Linked DNA regions of Homo sapiens: region 1 is linked to region 2. A link means that fine-mapping ties the variant in region 2 to the expression of a gene that starts in the linked region. Tissue or cell type: monocytes after Pam3CSK4. Region 2 holds a variant in brackets; the other region holds the start of a gene. All regions are shown on one strand. Distances are between the middles of the regions.

What was found. PIP is the estimated chance that this variant, and not a neighbour inherited with it, causes the effect.
Region 1: it holds the start of HES1, and the variant in region 2 is fine-mapped to the expression of HES1 in monocytes after Pam3CSK4 (Quach 2016, PIP 0.95).

Annotation. Positions count from the first base shown.
Region 1 is chr3:194,131,105-194,139,281 of GRCh38, reverse strand. HES1 (hes family bHLH transcription factor 1) reads right to left here and starts at 3,134. Exons shown (of 4, transcript NM_005524.4): 1 at 2,794-3,134; 2 at 2,570-2,665; 3 at 2,234-2,321; 4 at 550-1,599. The coding sequence starts at 2,901. The coding sequence ends at 1,049. RefSeq lists enhancers at 1,021-1,210, 3,008-3,167, 1,977-3,176 and silencers at 1,241-1,440, 4,167-4,706, 4,777-5,056.
Region 2 is chr3:194,094,856-194,103,032 of GRCh38, reverse strand. The region is part of intron 4 of LOC102724877; the gene reads right to left. Among named protein-coding and RNA genes, the nearest start is that of LINC02028, 28 kb to the right of the region's middle. RefSeq lists an enhancer at 1,807-2,096. The variant C/A (reference allele first, on the strand shown) is at 4,306.

The DNA.
Region 1 (8,177 bases), 36 kb before region 2:
CTCTATTAGAGCCAAGCACAGAAACTTATCAAAAACACATGTCTGGTGTTAATCATCTGGGCTCGGCCTCCACTTGGGAGTCTAACTAACTGTCCCTTGGCAGAAGGAATCTGTTGACCTTTTCAGCTTGCTTTAAGAGGGTGCGGAGAGGAAACTTTTGGGTGCTAGGGAACGTCTTATTTGAACCAAAGGATTGGCTAATTAATGAAGACCCCAAGTCTTGAAGGAGGCGCAGCAGTTGGAAGTGTTTTTGCTTTGGATGCTGGTGAGCTACCCTGAGAGGAGAGCTGCAGGAACCACCCTTAACGTGCAATGGGCAATAGGATTGGATCCATTAGCTTCGTGAATTTAGTCCTGTTCAATCTTCCTCAGGAGGAGCTAGAAGAACAAGGGCTGCAGACTTACCCGACTGCAACTTAAAAACATTTTTTTTGGAAATCCTTTAAGAGACTGACCACAAGTTTATCAGGGAAGCCTTACCAGATGGCTGCTTGTAAAGTAAATGGAATTTAGTCTTTTTAGTTCATGGAGGATTGGTGAAAAGTTTGATGGATTTTTACAAATGTTCTTTTAATAACAAAAGAGTCAATTCCTGAATTACCAATTACATGTAATTCAAATTCCACCAAAAGCCTTTTTACATATTCTGGAAGAATCAGTTCGAAGACATAAAAGCCTTTACTTTTTTCTTTTATTATATTTTCTCAAATAAACTTCCCCAAAGGAAGATATTTTAAGAGCATTTTCAAACATCTTTGGCATCACATAAAAAAGAAATCTCGTGTAAAAAACGAAATGTCATCTGAGCTTTTATAATACAAAGGCGCAATCCAATATGAACATATAAAATATATACAAATATAGTGCATGGTCAGTCACTTAATACAGCTCTCTCTACAAAAAGTAACTTCTTAGAAATTAAAAAAACACAAAGTAACCACTTAATCAAAAAAGTCCTCTTCTCTCCCAGTATTCAAGTTCCTGTTTAGAGTCCGGAGGGAAGAGAGGTGGGTTGGGGAGTTTAGGAGGAGGGGTGGCCTGAGCCCCCTCAGTTCCGCCACGGCCTCCACATGGAGTCCGCCGTAAGCGAGGGGCCGCTGGAAGGTGACACTGCGTTGGGGCCCACGGAGGTGCCGCTGTTGCTGGTGTAGACGGGGATGACAGGGCCGCTGTGCGCGAAGGCCCCGTTGGGAATGAGGAAAGCAAACTGGCCATCGGGAGCCGGTACCACCTGGAAGCCTCCAAACACCTTAGCCGCCTCTCCAGCCTGGCTGCCCAGCTTGCAGGGGGCGCCGCCGGGAGGGGGCGCCGCGCCCCCGGGGATGGGCACGAGTGGCGGCGGCGGCGCGAACGGCGCGTGCTGGGGGCCGCCGGGTCCCGGTGGGGGCGGTGGCGGCGCCTGCAAGGCGGGGTGCGGCTGCCCGGGGTAGGTCATGGCATTGATCTGGGTCATGCAGTTGGCCAGGTGGCCGAGCAGCCGAGTGCGCACCTCGGTATTAACGCCCTCGCACGTGGACAGGAAGCGGGTCACCTCGTTCATGCACTCGCTGAAGCCGGCTCGGTACTTCCCCAGCACACTTGGGTCTGTGCTCAGCGCAGCTGCGGGCCAGAAAGAGACAGACGGGTCACCGAACGGCCCTGGCCCCGTGGCCACTGCCTCCGCCCTGGGAGGTCCCTGTGGCGCGCCTCCCTGACCATGCGCCCGTGAAACTGCCTCCGGCAGGGAGGGTGAGATGGGTTTAGAAAAAACCAGCCACCTCTCCACACTAGCGTTGCTGCCAAAAGCCGAGCCACTCCTTCCCGATTCCCTGTAGCTGCATTTAAACCTATCTCAGCCCCAGATCTGTCACCCCCACCCCCGCGCGCGATGTGACCTTGGACAATGCCTCCCAATCCATCATCCAAGCCTCATTTCCCCTTCTGCAACGGGAAGGAGTGCTAAACCAGTGACCCCCAGGCTCCACGCAGTTCCAAACCGCCACAGTCCTAAGTCCTTTCGCCCCTACCCGGCGCCCGCCACCCTCGCGGCTGCAACCTCTTTCCCTCCCTTTCCGGAACAGTAACAACTTGGAGTTGTGGCTATAAATAAGCCCCAGACCGTGGGAACGCAAGAGTGAGCCAAGGCAGTAAAATGTAGCTGAATGCCTCTCACAACCACGGGCGGAAGTCTGGAAGAAATCACCGCGAGGCGAGCGGGACGCCCGCACAGGGGGACGCGGCGAGCCGCCCTCACCCGTCATCTGCGCCCGCTGCAGGTTCCGGAGGTGCTTCACTGTCATTTCCAGAATGTCCGCCTTCTCCAGCTTGGAATGCCGCGAGCTCTGCATAGAGTAGGCAAGAAAGGAAAGTGAGCCCCGTGTCAGCTGCTTCAGAGTGCTGGGGGTCCCTCCTCCCGGCCACGGAGCGCAAGCATTATCTCTGGACCCCAGCGAATAAGGCCGGGCCCTCCCGCCTGGGAGAACGCAGTACCAGCGAGTGCCAGACCCCGCAGGGCGGGGGGTTTCACTCTTAGTAGCTGAGAAAGTGTTTGTTTTTTAATTAAAAGAGCGAGCAGCATTTCCCCACTTACATCTTTCTTCAGAGCATCCAAAATCAGTGTTTTCAGCTGGCTCAGACTTTCATTTATTCTTGCTCTTCGTCTTTTCTCCATAATAGGCTTTGATGACTGCAAATAAAAAAAAGAGTTCTGTGTTCCCATGGAATCTGCCATCCCGGGGTTTCAAGACAGAAAGAAGCCCCCCAACCCCTACTTAATTTTGAGGGGCTGCAAAGAGATACAGGTACCGCCCTTACCTTTCTGTGCTCAGATGCTGTCTTTGGTTTATCCGGTGTCGTGTTGACACTGGCTGGGGTAGCAGCCACCGGGGACGAGGAATTTTTCTCCATTATATCAGCTGGCATTTTCCTTTTTTTTTTTTTTTTATCTCTAGAGAATTTTATTTTTGGAGTTCTTCACGAAAAAGAATTTTTTGTTTGTGTCTCTTTTACTTGAGACTTTCACAAAACTACTGAGCAAGTGCTGAGGGTTTATTATATTTTGTGGCTACTTGGTGATCAGTAGCGCTGTTCCAGGACCAAGGAGAGAGGTAGACGGGGGATTCCGCTGTTATCAGCACCAGCTCCGGATCCTGTGTGATCCCTAGGCCCTGGCGGCCTCTATATATATCTGGGACTGCACGCGAACGGCTCGTGTGAAACTTCCCAAACTTTCTTTCCCACAGTAACTTTCAGCCAATGGGAGGAGGAGACACGCGGCACCGCTCGTGGACCGCGCCCCCCCATTGGCCGCCAGGCACAAGGTCTGGCGGCCAATGGCGCGCGCCTGAGCCCAGGGCACCGGAGGCTACAACGTCAATCAAAAGGATTTTAACCCTTTGCTACTCTCCCTCTGGGCTTTGGTTTAGAGATTTTTTTTTTCTTTCCGCTTTGGTCTTGATCTTGTCTATTTCTTTTGGAGCCAGGGTCTTTGCTCTTTATGCCCTCTCTCATATGTAACAGAGCTGCTTTGACTGTAGTAAGTTCATTTGAAACATATTTTTTTTAAAGGTATAAACAATAAAGAAAAAAACAGCAGTGGTTAAAAGGGGGCGGGGGGAGGGGGGGACGGGTGTAAGAATGTGAGTTACCGACACATCTAAAGTTCCCGCTCAGACTTTACATTCAGGAGGGTGAAAGTAGATGGTAAAGGAAAAGGGCCAAAAAAATTTTCCTGTTTCCATGCAGAAAAAGGAAAAATTGCCTTCTACCTCACAAATGCAGGTTTTTCGGAGCAAGGTAGTTCTTGAATCCCACCCCCACCCCGTCTTTCAGAAATTCCTCGTTTGGATTTGGGGCCTTAGACCCCGGGCTTCCCCAGGAAACAATCAGAATAATTTCCAACTGGGTGGAAGGAAACGGTATTTCAAATGAAAAAATGAACAAGGGGGGCTCCGAGGGCAATGACTCAGGGACTCGCGCCCTCCTTCACCACCCTTTCCCTTTTCATCCGTAGGCTTTAGGTTCTGCGGCGCGTTGAGGTGGCGGGCAAGGAAGCAGCCTCTCCCTCCTCGCCCCGCGGGCGGCCTCGGCCCCCGGCGCCCGCGGGCCCTTTAAGAGCTACACCAGCCGAGCTGCAGTTTGACATCAGCCGGCCGGCGTGGGCGCGCCTGGAGCCGGAGCACGTGCCAGGATGTTTTATTGCCGCCGCGGCTGCGGCCGGGCCGGGAGGATGTGTGTGTGCGTGCGTGTGTGAGTGAGTGTGTGTGCGCGCGCCCCGGGGGCAGGGAGGCGGGGGGCGGCGACGGGCGGCGGAGAGCGGGGGCCGGTTCCTGGTCCCCGGGAGAAGCCAAGAAGGTAAATAGCAGCTGCTGTGCTCGAGCCTGGGAAAACCCCGCCCCCTGCGCCTGGCCCGGGCTCATTGGCGCGCGCTGCGTGTGGGGGGTGTGTGTGTGTGTGTGTCCGGGGCCCCCTCCTCCGGCCCCGCCGGGCCAGGAATCCGAGGGGGCGGCGGGCTGGGAGCCGAGCCCCGGCGCTTACCCTCTCTCCCCACCCCCGCCTCCCCAGGCCAAGGTCAGCTCTTCCCGGCGGGGAGCGCACACCCGGGGTGGAGAGTGGGGAATTCTTCCAACCCCCGCCTCCCCACCCTCACTTTCGGGCTTGGGGTTTTCACTCGGCCGAAAGCCGCATTCGCAACAGCCCGGGGGCGAGGTGGGGGCCTCCAAGTTTGCTCCTCGCCCCCGCCCTCTCCCCGCGGGGCCCTGGGCGCCCGCCGCGGTCACGGGATGCCTGACCGCACTTAGGAAGCGGCCGGGTCAGCCTCCTGCCTCCGCTCGGCGACTGCGGTTAAAGCGGCTTCGCGCCGCCCGCCCCTTCCCCGGGTCCCGGGCGGCCGGGCCGCTCCCCCTCACTACGCCCGGGAGGCCGCCGGCGGGCGCCCGGGAGGAGGCGGGCGGCGCGGGCGGCTGCGTGCTGCCTGCTGGCCGGGCCGCGCGCCGGGAGGAGTCGCCGCCGCCGCCGCCGGGTGCCACGTGGCGGGCGCCGGGCCGGGAGCGCCAGGGCTCTGGCGGCGGCCTCCCTGGGGGATTTGCCGAGCCGGGCGGGCGGCGCGCACTGCCTGGGCCGGCCGGCCGCCTCCTCCGCCTCCCTCCCGCCTGCCCGGGTCGCCGGCCCCCGTGCCCCCACCCCCCCTCCGCCCTTCCCGCCGCCTGGGAGCTCGGCTCGCGGCTCCGGGCAGCCCGGGAGCCCAGCGTCTTGTTTGATGTGGCCTCCCGCCCCCTCAGCCCTTCCCGCGTCCCGGAGGCCTGGCGCACGGTTCTCAGACACTTCATTCCTTCCGGCCTCCCAGCTCCCCACTGAGATAACGTTGTCAATGATTTCGCCAGATCTCGTCCCGGATGAGATTCAGTGGTTCCTGACTCTGGGTGACCTTGGGCAAGCCCCCCTCTCTCTTTCATTGTGGAACACACGCGCAGTGTCAGACACTGTGTTAAACCCTGGGATTTCCACGGTGAGAGATACAGTGGCGGCCTGCTAGAAGTTGACAGTAAACTGCGGGGGCAGACAGACGCTGATTTTCTGATTGATGACTGGACATTCCTTTATTTTTCCTTTCTTTTCTGAGTTAGGTGGTGGCTTGAGAGATCAGGAGGACAGAAACAAAATATGAAACCATACTTGTATGGATAACAGTATTGCTGGTCTACCTGGGTTTACAGCAGTGAGTAAGACCGTTATTGCTCTCTGGAAGCTAACAGTCTAGAGATACATATAAACGTGTACAGCTGACATCTACGGATGGCCCAGTAAATTCCTCTGGGAAGTCGTAGGTTCAAGAGAGACGTATGTCTGGATAGAGGTAAAATGCTATGGAGTTTCAGGAGAATTAAGTTACTTTTAAGTTGGGGTACCTTGGAAAACTTCCTGGAGGGATTGGCCTGTGTACCTTGAAAAATAGGTAGGATTGGGGCATTGGGAATGTGCTTAGTCGTGGGCTGGAGAGGATGCAGGTACCCATGGTATTAAAGGCCAAGATCCTGGAACTTGAAGACTTTATTCAGGGAACATGGTCTGGAGCCTAGGGAATGTGAGGGACTGGAAGAGGCAGCTTGAGGCCATGTCACAAGCTCCTTAAACATCTTGCTGAAGGACTTTGGACCTTATCTTTAGACAGTGGAGAGCCATGAAACATTCTTGAGCAAAGAAGAGGCATCAGGGTTTCCCTTTAGAAAGATGGCTCTGGCAAAAGTGGGAGAGTGGATTGCAGGGCTTGGAGGCAGAAAGGGCAGTTAGGCAGTTCAAGCCAGTGAAGAAGGTTCCTAGGAGGCAGGTGCAGACTGACTCCCAGAGGCATCTGTCTACATCCAGCTCCTCTGGACATTGACCGCACGCTCTTGGGAACTGAGTTCAACTCAAACCTGCCTACCCTTTAATGCAGTGTTCCCAACCCCCAACCAGGAACTCAGGAACTCAGATTTAATTCCTGAGTCTAACTAAGGAATCATGGCTCTGACCGTATTAACCTAAGCCTCATTTCCACCTTCCAGGATAGTCCTCCAGTCTGCAACCAAACATTTCCCTCATCGAAGGCTTTGGTTTACTCACTGTTGCCCCTAAGGCTACTCTGAGATTTTTTTTAAAAAATGTTTTCTTACACTGCAGAGTGAGCTGTGCCCTGTCATGTTCTGAAGAAATGATGAACAATGCCTCCTTTGTTGACCTGCAACCTGGGCCAAAGGGGAAGGAATTTTCTTTCTTATTTTAAACAGATGGAAAAGTGGTGATGACAGAAAATTGTCTGTTGCTTTTGGAAAACGTAGGGTTTTCCTGTGTGGTGAAAATCCTCTTGGTGAAAGGTGATGAGCCTATGAAGTTACCCTCCTTTCTGCCATGGCCCCAATAAGCTTTGCAAGCTTCTTAAAATGCTTCTACTGAGCGTCTGACTTTTTAAAAACTTCCCAAATACACTGACCCAGATTCTTCTGAGGAACTAAACCCTTCCCGGGGAAGCATGTTAACCCTTTCCAGGTTCCCCCCAAATCTTTCAGAACCAGTGCCTGCTCTGCTAGGCTCTGCCAGGCTCTGCCATGACATTGACTGCTGTCTGCTGGTCGGCCCTCATTAACTACTGGGTTATGCCACTCCCTGCCCATTCTAAGAGACTTTTTCATCTGATTCTGTTCCCCACTCTTATTTGGTGCCCTGAAGGTGCATGGGGAATGGAATATGGTCAAGTTAGGGTCTCACTGAAGGGGCTAAAGCAGCCTCGTGGGTCAAATAGTTAATCAGCAACTCGTTTATTGCCACTTTGGGAGTGCTTGGACTGGTGGAATGGGCAAGTAACTTTCACACACACGTTTTTAGATAGGGGGACAGAGGCTCAAGTAACAAAAAAAATTATGAATTTGTGTCTGGACCAAAAATAAATAAATAATAAATAAAAATAAATTCCAGGAACTCTCTGGCTTTCCACTCTAACCATTCAAGAAGAGTTTCTTGCAGATGGGCTCACAGATGACTTTTCAGTTTCCTTATGCTAGGCAGTGAAAATAGGACCAACGTTGTCCTCTCCCCACCCCTTCTCAAATGGGACAGTAAGCTCCTAAACTCAGGAAGAAGCATCTGCATCTGGAAGAATGCTCTTAGATAGATAGAAACAGCCTTTATTTTTCAGTCATCCTTTTCCCCCGACTCCCAAAGCAAAGAGAAAATGGAGCCCAGTTCATCAGTGGAGGTCACTTCTTTGATCCCCCTGTGACACCAGCATCGTTCTGAATCGTTCTCACCGTGTCATGCCCAATACATACAACCAGGGGCTCCCGCACTTGTCTCCACCCACAGCGTCCCCCCACCCCCGCCCCGGAAGGGCGACTTCTCTGTCTTACCGCATCACCTGTTTGCTTTCAAACCATAAAACAAATAACTGCATCTCTAGTGAAACTCCCCTTTGTCCCCTAGGTATCAGAGTGGTTTGTGGGTTTGGTTTAAAGCTACAGAAAGGAGAGAGCAAGAGAAGAAGAAAAAAGGTATTTTGCCTGAGGACTTGAAGCTTTTTTTTTTCCCTTTTCCTCCGCATGACTGACTTTCTCACACTCAGATTCCCTCCAGCCTGCCAGAGACGTGGTAGCTGCCCTGCCAAGAGCTATCCTGGGAGGGCTATTGAACGAGCTTTGAGTAAGTACACACACGGTGGATTTTCTCCT
Region 2 (8,177 bases):
CAAAATATATTCTCTCCTTAGAAATAATTTGAACTATTCTAGAAATCTGATGTTTAAAAGAGCTAAGTATAGTAAAACATGGCAAGTGCTGTCCAATAGCCACGCTTAAATTAGGGGATGATTAGAGAAAAAAACAAGTAACTGTGATTGTGAAGTTCAGGGCTGTGTAGGTTAAGGGAGGCTTCACTGAGGTGGTGGCACTGAGCTTATGTAGGAATGAATGAGGTAGAGAAGGTCCTTCTAGACAGAGAACAACATAAACAAAGGCTCTGAGGTATGGGGTGGAGGGATTGGGGTGGCTACTATTTCCAGGTGGCCTCATAACGTGACTAGTAAGTACAGACCTGAGAGGTCTTTGCTGCCTGCTTCGTTTATTTGGGGCTGATTGCCTGGGTCATTTTAGGTTTCAGTCCTGTGGTTGGAGCCGTCCGTCCAAAAGTCACTGCTGTGCTTACACTGCCAACCACCTAAGACTTTTGTTTGTTTGTTTGTTTTTATTCTTCATGTGCTCTGGTGGGGGAGGTTTACTGCCAGCAGCAATGTCCTACTTCCTAAGATTTTAACATCACTTCGAGTTAAGGAGGGGAAGTTGATTTCCAGGTAGGTCATTTTTTTTTTCAACCAGTTGGGAAGGCGAGTTGGCCCCTATAGGGACTGAGAAAATAAGAGATGGCCAGAGCCCTCGTCCAGCACCATCTGAGATCTGTCACTGCCTGCTCCCCTCTGGCTGCCTGAGCGTGTCCACAGCAGTGGTGGACACAGGCTTGGAGCATGTGGTGCTCAGCCAATGGGCAGACAACAGCAGTGGAGATGCCACTGAGGGCCCAGAGAAAAGGCACTTTGGTACATCTGGGAGAGGCCACTCCCTTCCTGAGCCAGCCAGGAGAGTGGGAGCTGTACCTCTTGAAAGCCATCATGATGTGGAGTCTCTGCCGGGTCACAGTGGGTGAGACCAAAAGTGAGGGTGGGTGGCACCCATAGGAGTACATGCAGAAGCAAAATCACTTCCTGGAATGGCTGTCTGAGCAGGCAGAGGGTGCAAACACAGCCCTGCACCTTAGGGAACCTTTAGTTGGATGTGAGGACTGTGCTCTCCCTTGCTTCTCCAGGCTGCGGAGGCATTGTGCTGCCTTCTTGCAATGCTGTAATGGTGAGGGAAGGGGACCCTGCACCTGGGGGTGTGGGAGGACAGCCTGAGGGTGGATGCTTAGTTCTGAGCTCCCAAACTAAAGCCAAGGACTTTGTCTTGCTTGTATTGGACAGCGCCCTTGGGTGCTGAGTTAATATTTTACCCAGCTTGCAAATAAGGGTTATCTGTTTGTCTCTGTAAAGGACACGGGGGCAAATGGCTTTCTGCACTACTGCTGTTGGTATGAGTGCTCATTCTCTTTGGGCAAAGGAAAGGAAAGAGATGGAGCCTTATCACTGCTCCTTTTTAGTTCATTGATGTAGGTGGCCAACTTTCTGAAAAATGGCCCCAGGGGACTGTGACCCTGGGTGGATCTTTACTCTGAACTTAGGAAGCAGCTTCATGCAGTAGAAATAACCTGAAGTTTGCAGTCAGCTAGGAGTGCATTCAAATTTCTCCACTTCCTAGTTGTGGTACTTAGGGAAGTACCTTCGCCTCTTAAAGCCTCAGTTTCCCCATCGGTACGGCAGGCATGAACTGCTCTCCTGGTTGGGTCGTGAGGTATGAAGGGGAGAGCGCAGTGGTATCTCCTGTGCTTGCTGGTTAGCTCTGAGTCTGGATGTGACACAGCTCTCAGTGGTCTAGAGATTGAGAATCGAAAAGCTTTCGGTTCATGAAAAACCATCTCAACGTCAGAGCTGGGGGCAAGCAGAGAAACCCAGGGTCAACCACTTCATCGGCCAGAAGAGGAAACTACACCTCGCCCTGCAGGTCCCCTGTGGCCACCACACCTGTCCTCAAACCTGCAAAAACACCACAGAATGGGGACTCCGGCACCCCCAGGCTTTCCGGACCTGTCCTCAGCATCCTCCTCCCCACCACCTGACCTGGCGCTTACTCTCCCAGCTCCATTTCGCCTTTGCTTTTGGACTTGGCCCTTGCTAGTTCCCAGCTCTGGCCTCAGGTCCACTCAGCAGTGACTCTGATCACATGCCCGGTGCCTTGCTGCTGGCTACCTCTGATGCACACACCCCGCATTGCAGTGGGGCCAGGACCTTAGTCCTTCAGAAGAAGGCTTTTCTCTCTCCCTTCTTCCCCTGGGTGATGTGTTGGTTTCTCTCCTTCCTCCCTCTCTCTCCTTTTTATTGCTTTTATAGTTATGGGGAGCAGTCTTTAAAGATTGTTGGTGAACACACCATACGCCTGCTTCATCAAGCAGTAGGTATCTGCCAGAAGAAAAAGGATGTCCTTGATGTGAAAAAATAAAAAAAGGGCTGTCAGCCCCTCCTTCGGTGGGCAGAGGGAAGACTCAGGCCAGCTCCTGATAGCAATGACTGAGTCCAGCTCCTCTAGACACTACGGAGTGTCTTGAAGAATTCATCTCCCTATCCCAGCCTTAGTTTCTTTTTTTTGTAAAATGGGGCAATCATGATTCCAATCCAGGCAACTTCATCGAGTTGCTGTTGGGACCACAGCAGGCACTGGATATGAAAACAATACATGGTAAAGCTACAAACCCCTGTGCACTCTACAGGGGTTGCTCATGGCCGTTTTCAGCTCCCTTCTGGGCTGAGGCCTGTCTATTTTCAACTGGATGGGTCTGAGTTGTGTGAAGTAGCTTCCTGTGAAGGCCCCTCAGTTTCCAGGACTGGAGAAGAACAGCAACTAGTTGCCTCTGATTCCCGCTCCCCAGCCCCTTCTCTCTGGACCGTGCCTTGTGGGCGGTGGGTGGTGGGGAGGCTCAAGGGATCCTCCAGCATCACTTTGCTGGGAGTGTGACTCTCCTGATGGCAAACACACCAGAACCGAGAGCCCCAACTCCCGGAATCCTCAGTTACAGGTGGCAGGGAGAGGTGGAGTCCAGGGAGAAGTGTGGGGCTTGCATGGGTGACATTGCATTCCTGGATAAGCAGGGAGAAAAGTCATAAAGGACAGCCATCCCTACTGTTCAGGTGTAACATGGCCACCAGTGGCACATGAATAAGGCATTTACATTCACCTCGAAGGTGCCAGGAGACTTGTCCAGACCTTCCTGAGGGAGCACAGCTCCAGTTTGGACATATTTACTAGTCTATTCATTTGTTCACAGATTTGTTTGACTATTTCTTCAGTCATGGCATATTTATCAAGTACTTACTATGTATCGGAGCCATGCTAAGGGTCCCGCATACATCTTGTCTTGTATTAGAATAGGTTAGGTAATGCTGTGGTAACAAACAACCTCAGAATCTCAGTGGCTGGAGGCAACAGGCATTTGTCTCTCACTGATGTTACATCCTCTGGACAGCTCTTCGGCAGAGGGATGTGCTGATGGCTGCCAATCCGAAGGGTGCTGTACCATCTGACGATGCCACCTTCTCAACACGGGAGCTGTTCTCTTTCCTGGCTGTTGCTGCGGCCAGGGAAGAGAGCACAGGAAATGTGCACCAACTCTGAAACGCTTCTGCCCGGAGGGGACACTCGTGACTTCTGCTCACATGTCATTGGCCAGAGGATGTCACATGGACATACCTAACTTCAAGCGGGACAGAGAAGTGTAATTCTTCCCTGGGATGGGAAAGGAAATATGGGAATGATGTGAACCCCACTAATCTCTATCCCATTGTAATCCCTACAACAAACTTGCCATGTGGTTATTATCCTGATTTGATACACGAAGAAACTGAGGATAAGCAACTCCTCCACACTCACACAGCTGGCAAGAGGGAGAGGTGGGATTTAACCTTGGGAAAGTCTGACTGCCAAGCTTTTGCTATTTCCTTGGTGTCGCCCTTTTCATGTTCACAAAATGGCTGTATCATAAGGCAGAAAAACTGCAGCTTATCAGTCAAAGAAGGATGGATAGCGTGTTGTGTAGTTTTAGAGGAGGAGAGATCACCTCCTGTTAGAGAAATCCGGGAAGACTTCACTGAGGTGGTAGCTCTTGCCTCTGGATCTTGAAGAATAGGACAGATTTGGACATTCAGAGATGCCAGTTCTTTCAATCTGTCAGTTATTCCTTCTGTGTGCAAGGTGGGTGGCTTCTGACGTCTGGAAAACCATTTGTAAAGTCCATTTAGTTCACGCTTTTAGTTTAGTCACACTCTTCCCTCACAAGAGAAGTCCTAGCGTGATGGTGAGAGGGAGGGGAAGTAGTTATGAACCGGGTTTCACCAAAGGAGCTTTCCTGGAAGAGG[C/A]CCTGGGGAGAAATCTGATGCAGTGGGTCGAATAAGAACGGGGTTTTCCTGCAGCTGTATTGCAGCCTTCATTCCTTTCTCCCTCCCTTCCTCTCCTCTTTCTTCTCCTTTCCCTTCCATTCCTGCGTCCCTCTCTCCGTCATTTCCTTAGTGCCTGCTGTCTGCCTGGGACAATGCTGAGTGCTGGGGCAGGGGAGGAGGCACACCCAGATTTTGGCTCCCTGGAACTCTCACACAGTTTAACGATGGGAGGGATAAGGTTGCAGGGCCCCAGAGCCCCAGTGTTTGCCTAGAAACTCAAGAAGAAACCTCCAGTGAGAGGCAGAGTGACCCATTGAGGGGTGTGGGTCACTTGAGGAAAAAAAAAAAAAGAAAAGAAGCCAGCCACACAGAGAACAGAGTCCCCACTGCCCTGTGGTCAGTGAGCACTGCTCCCTAGCTTGGGCCGGACAGCTGGCCCCTCTGGGCTCACTCAGGCCGACTGCACCTGGCCTTGCTCACAGCTGTGCTCCTCTGAGCTGGCCCACACCAGCCAGCAACCAGTTCTTGTCAATGCAGCTAGAGCAGACTGTGGCTGCCTCCCTGATTCTCCTCCACCTCTTCTCCCCAACCCAGGGAGAACTTGCAGTCTGGGGACAGAATCTGTACATCAGGGATGGTTTTGACAAACTAAGGAGGGAGAGGAGCTGGAAGACATCCTTGCACCCATGCTGAGGCTTGGCTGTACACGTTTCCCTTCCAGGATTCACAGGCTGCCAGCAAAGGGCTTAAGATTTCAGCTCTGCGGAAACTATGATCAAGTGCCTTTTTGGGGTCCAGGGATGAATGCACCCCTATTTAACTGTGTCTGTGTATCTTCTACCTTTAGATCCATTTTCCTATTCACAGGACCAGAGTATTTCAGCGCTAGGAGTGATCTCACAGGGTTTTTAGGCCAGTGGTTGCTAAACCTGATTGTCCTCCAGGAAGCCTTTAAAAATACACATTCCTAGGCTCTGAGCCCAGAAGTTCTGACTCCGTAGGTCTGGCCCTTGTCCCTTCCAGTTATTGATTCTGCAGGTCCCACGCTCAGAGGGGGTAGTCCCCCGGGGCCAAGGAAGCCGGGGGAGTGTGTCAGTCGCTTTTGCTTGGCGACCACCTTTCCTCGTGTGAATTTATTGTTCTCATTAAGGAGATGGGTCCCAAAACGTGCTGAGAGGACCAACACTTGTTTATTGTGCTCTGTGAGTATTTGTGGGCTCCCTGAATGCAGGTCTGGGTTTCCGTGCTGGCTCGGTTCCATTTCATCAAGGAGAAGGAGCCCTTCCCAGGGGCGGATGAGCATTGTTTTCAAGCCACGGTTGCCCTCCCAAGGCTTCCCTGGAGCCAGGGGAGCTCATCAGCCAGAAAGGTGCTCACCAGAGCTCAAGTCTGCCCTGGCTGCCTGATGGAGAGGAGGGGCTGCAGGGGAACGCTGCTGACCTACACACACACACCACACACACACACACACACACACACCAGGCCTGGCTGAAGAACATGCTGTCTCCTGGAGGAACTGAGAACCTGGGCATTTCTCTGGGAAATCACCTTTCATTTCCAAATTCCAAGAAGTGCTTCCAAAAAAGATAATAGTTTTGCTGTGTGTCCAAGAGTTTGCTTGTGCAGGATCTCATGTGCTCTTTGCAGCTGCCCTGGTAGGTGGAGAGGACAGGGCTTATCCTTTTTGTGCTCTAACTGAGCAAACTGAGCTTGGAAAGGGCATCTGATTCTGAGTATTTAGCACTAAAGGGCTATGCTGTGTGAAATGTACCCTCAAATTCTTCAGAAAAGAATTCTGTATGTGTGTGGAGTGGGAGAGTGCATGCAGGCACACACGATGGATAAAGCAAATGGGGTAAAATGGGAGCAACAGTGAATCATCTGGGTAAAAAATATACAGGTGTTCTTTGTACTATTTTTATTTTTGTAATTTTTTGAAATGTAAAATGTATTTCCAAATAAAACAATGTTAAGGGGGTGTGGTTTATTCAAGGACATGGAGCAGGTTCCTTGTCTGTGGAAGGCCCACTTGTCACTTCTTACCATCTCTAGATTGATATATTTCTTTTTTTTTTTTTGAGATGGAGGTTTGCTCTTGTTGCTCAGGCCGGAGTGCAGTGGCGTGATCTCGGTTCACTGCAACCTCCGCCTCCTGGGCTCAAGTGATTCTTCTGCCTCAGCCTCCTGAGTAGCTGGGATTACAGGCGCATGCCACCACGCCTGGCTAATTTTCATATTTTTAGTAGGGACAGGGTTTCACCATGCTGGCCAGGCTGGCCTCGAACTCCTGACCTCAGGTGATCCACCGGCCTGGGCCTCCCAAAGTGCTGGGATTACAGGTGTGAGCCACTGCACTCGGCCGATTGATACATTTCTTAGTCTCAAACGCCAGTTCCTTTGCTCCACCTTCCCTGGCCTCTTACACTAGATCGTGTGCCCCAATTGCATGTACTTTTCCTTCCACTTATCCCTACGGGTGGGACTGAATTATTTAAAATTTAATGTCAATTTATCCTGCTGGACTATAAGCTCTATGAGGGCAGGACCTCTACCGTCTTGCTCCTGGCTGTATCCCAAGGGCGTAGCACAGTGACTGGAATATAGTAGGTGCTCAGTGAACGTCTTCCGAAGGAGTTAATGAATGGAGTGAATGCATGCCAGTGCACGGGCCGCAGATGCTCACAGGGGGACACACACATGCACACGTGCTCGTGCTCTATTTTCTTAGTGAGATTGCTCTGCCACAGGCAGGCTGGGGATGCCAAAATTTGGAGGACAGCTGGCAGGGTGGCATCATGCCTCTGGAAATGACATTCTGGGAACAACTGACATCCTTTGGGAAGCTAGAATGATGCCCCTTCCCAGCCAGTGCTCCCCTCTCCTCCCCACCTCAGGCCCAGAGGCTCTTCCGGGGGAGAAATGATGCTCTTGCAGCAGGTGGCAAAGGGATCCCAGGGCCAGTGGGCTGTCAGTGGGGGCAGGGATGCTGTGTGGAAACTGCTGCCTTTCCGGAAACAAAAGGGCCCTTTAGAGTCACTTGATATCATGTCTTCCTGTCTGGGCCTCTGCCAAGCCTCCCTCTTCCTACTGTGGAACAGCAGGCACAACAGCGACCTGACCTGTGCCTGCTCCTCCTGGGGCACTGCTGGGGAGCCAGGGCAAGCACCGAGCAGGAACAGAGGTGCCTGGGCAGGCTACACATGCCAAGGTGTGCCCATTAACTGAAGTTCTGATTTTAATTTTTGAGTGATACATCCACATATTCACAATTCAAAAAGTGTAAACTACATGCTATGAAAAGTCTTCCTCCCAACCTGCCCTCCATCCATCCAGTTTCCCCTGCCAATGTTCTCAGTTTCTTAAGAATCCTACAGATAGTCGGTGCATGTACCGCCAAATATGCGTATTTCCTGCAGTGGTAGAATTCCATATACCCTGTTTGTATCTTGCCTTTTTCACTTTATGATATGTCTTGGCGCTCTTTCTATGGGTCCATAAAAGAGTGTCCTTGGTTTTTTGGTGTTTGGCTACATAGTATTCCATGGTGTCAATGTTTCATATGTCTAAGGAACATTTTATGGGAACCTTTTGTTCCTGTACGAAGTGAAGAGTATTGAGGAGTGATAGTTAGAGATGCCAAAAACCCGAGGCCTGCACTATCCAGTACAGTAACACCTGTCTCCATAAGGCTACTGAGCACTTAAAATGTGGCTAACCAGGCTGGGTGTGGTGGCTCACACCTGTATTCCCAGTACTTTGGGAGATAAAAGGGGGTGGATCACCTGAGGCCAGGAGTTAAAGACCAGCCTGGGCAACATGGTGAAACCCTGTCTCTACTAAAAATACAAAAA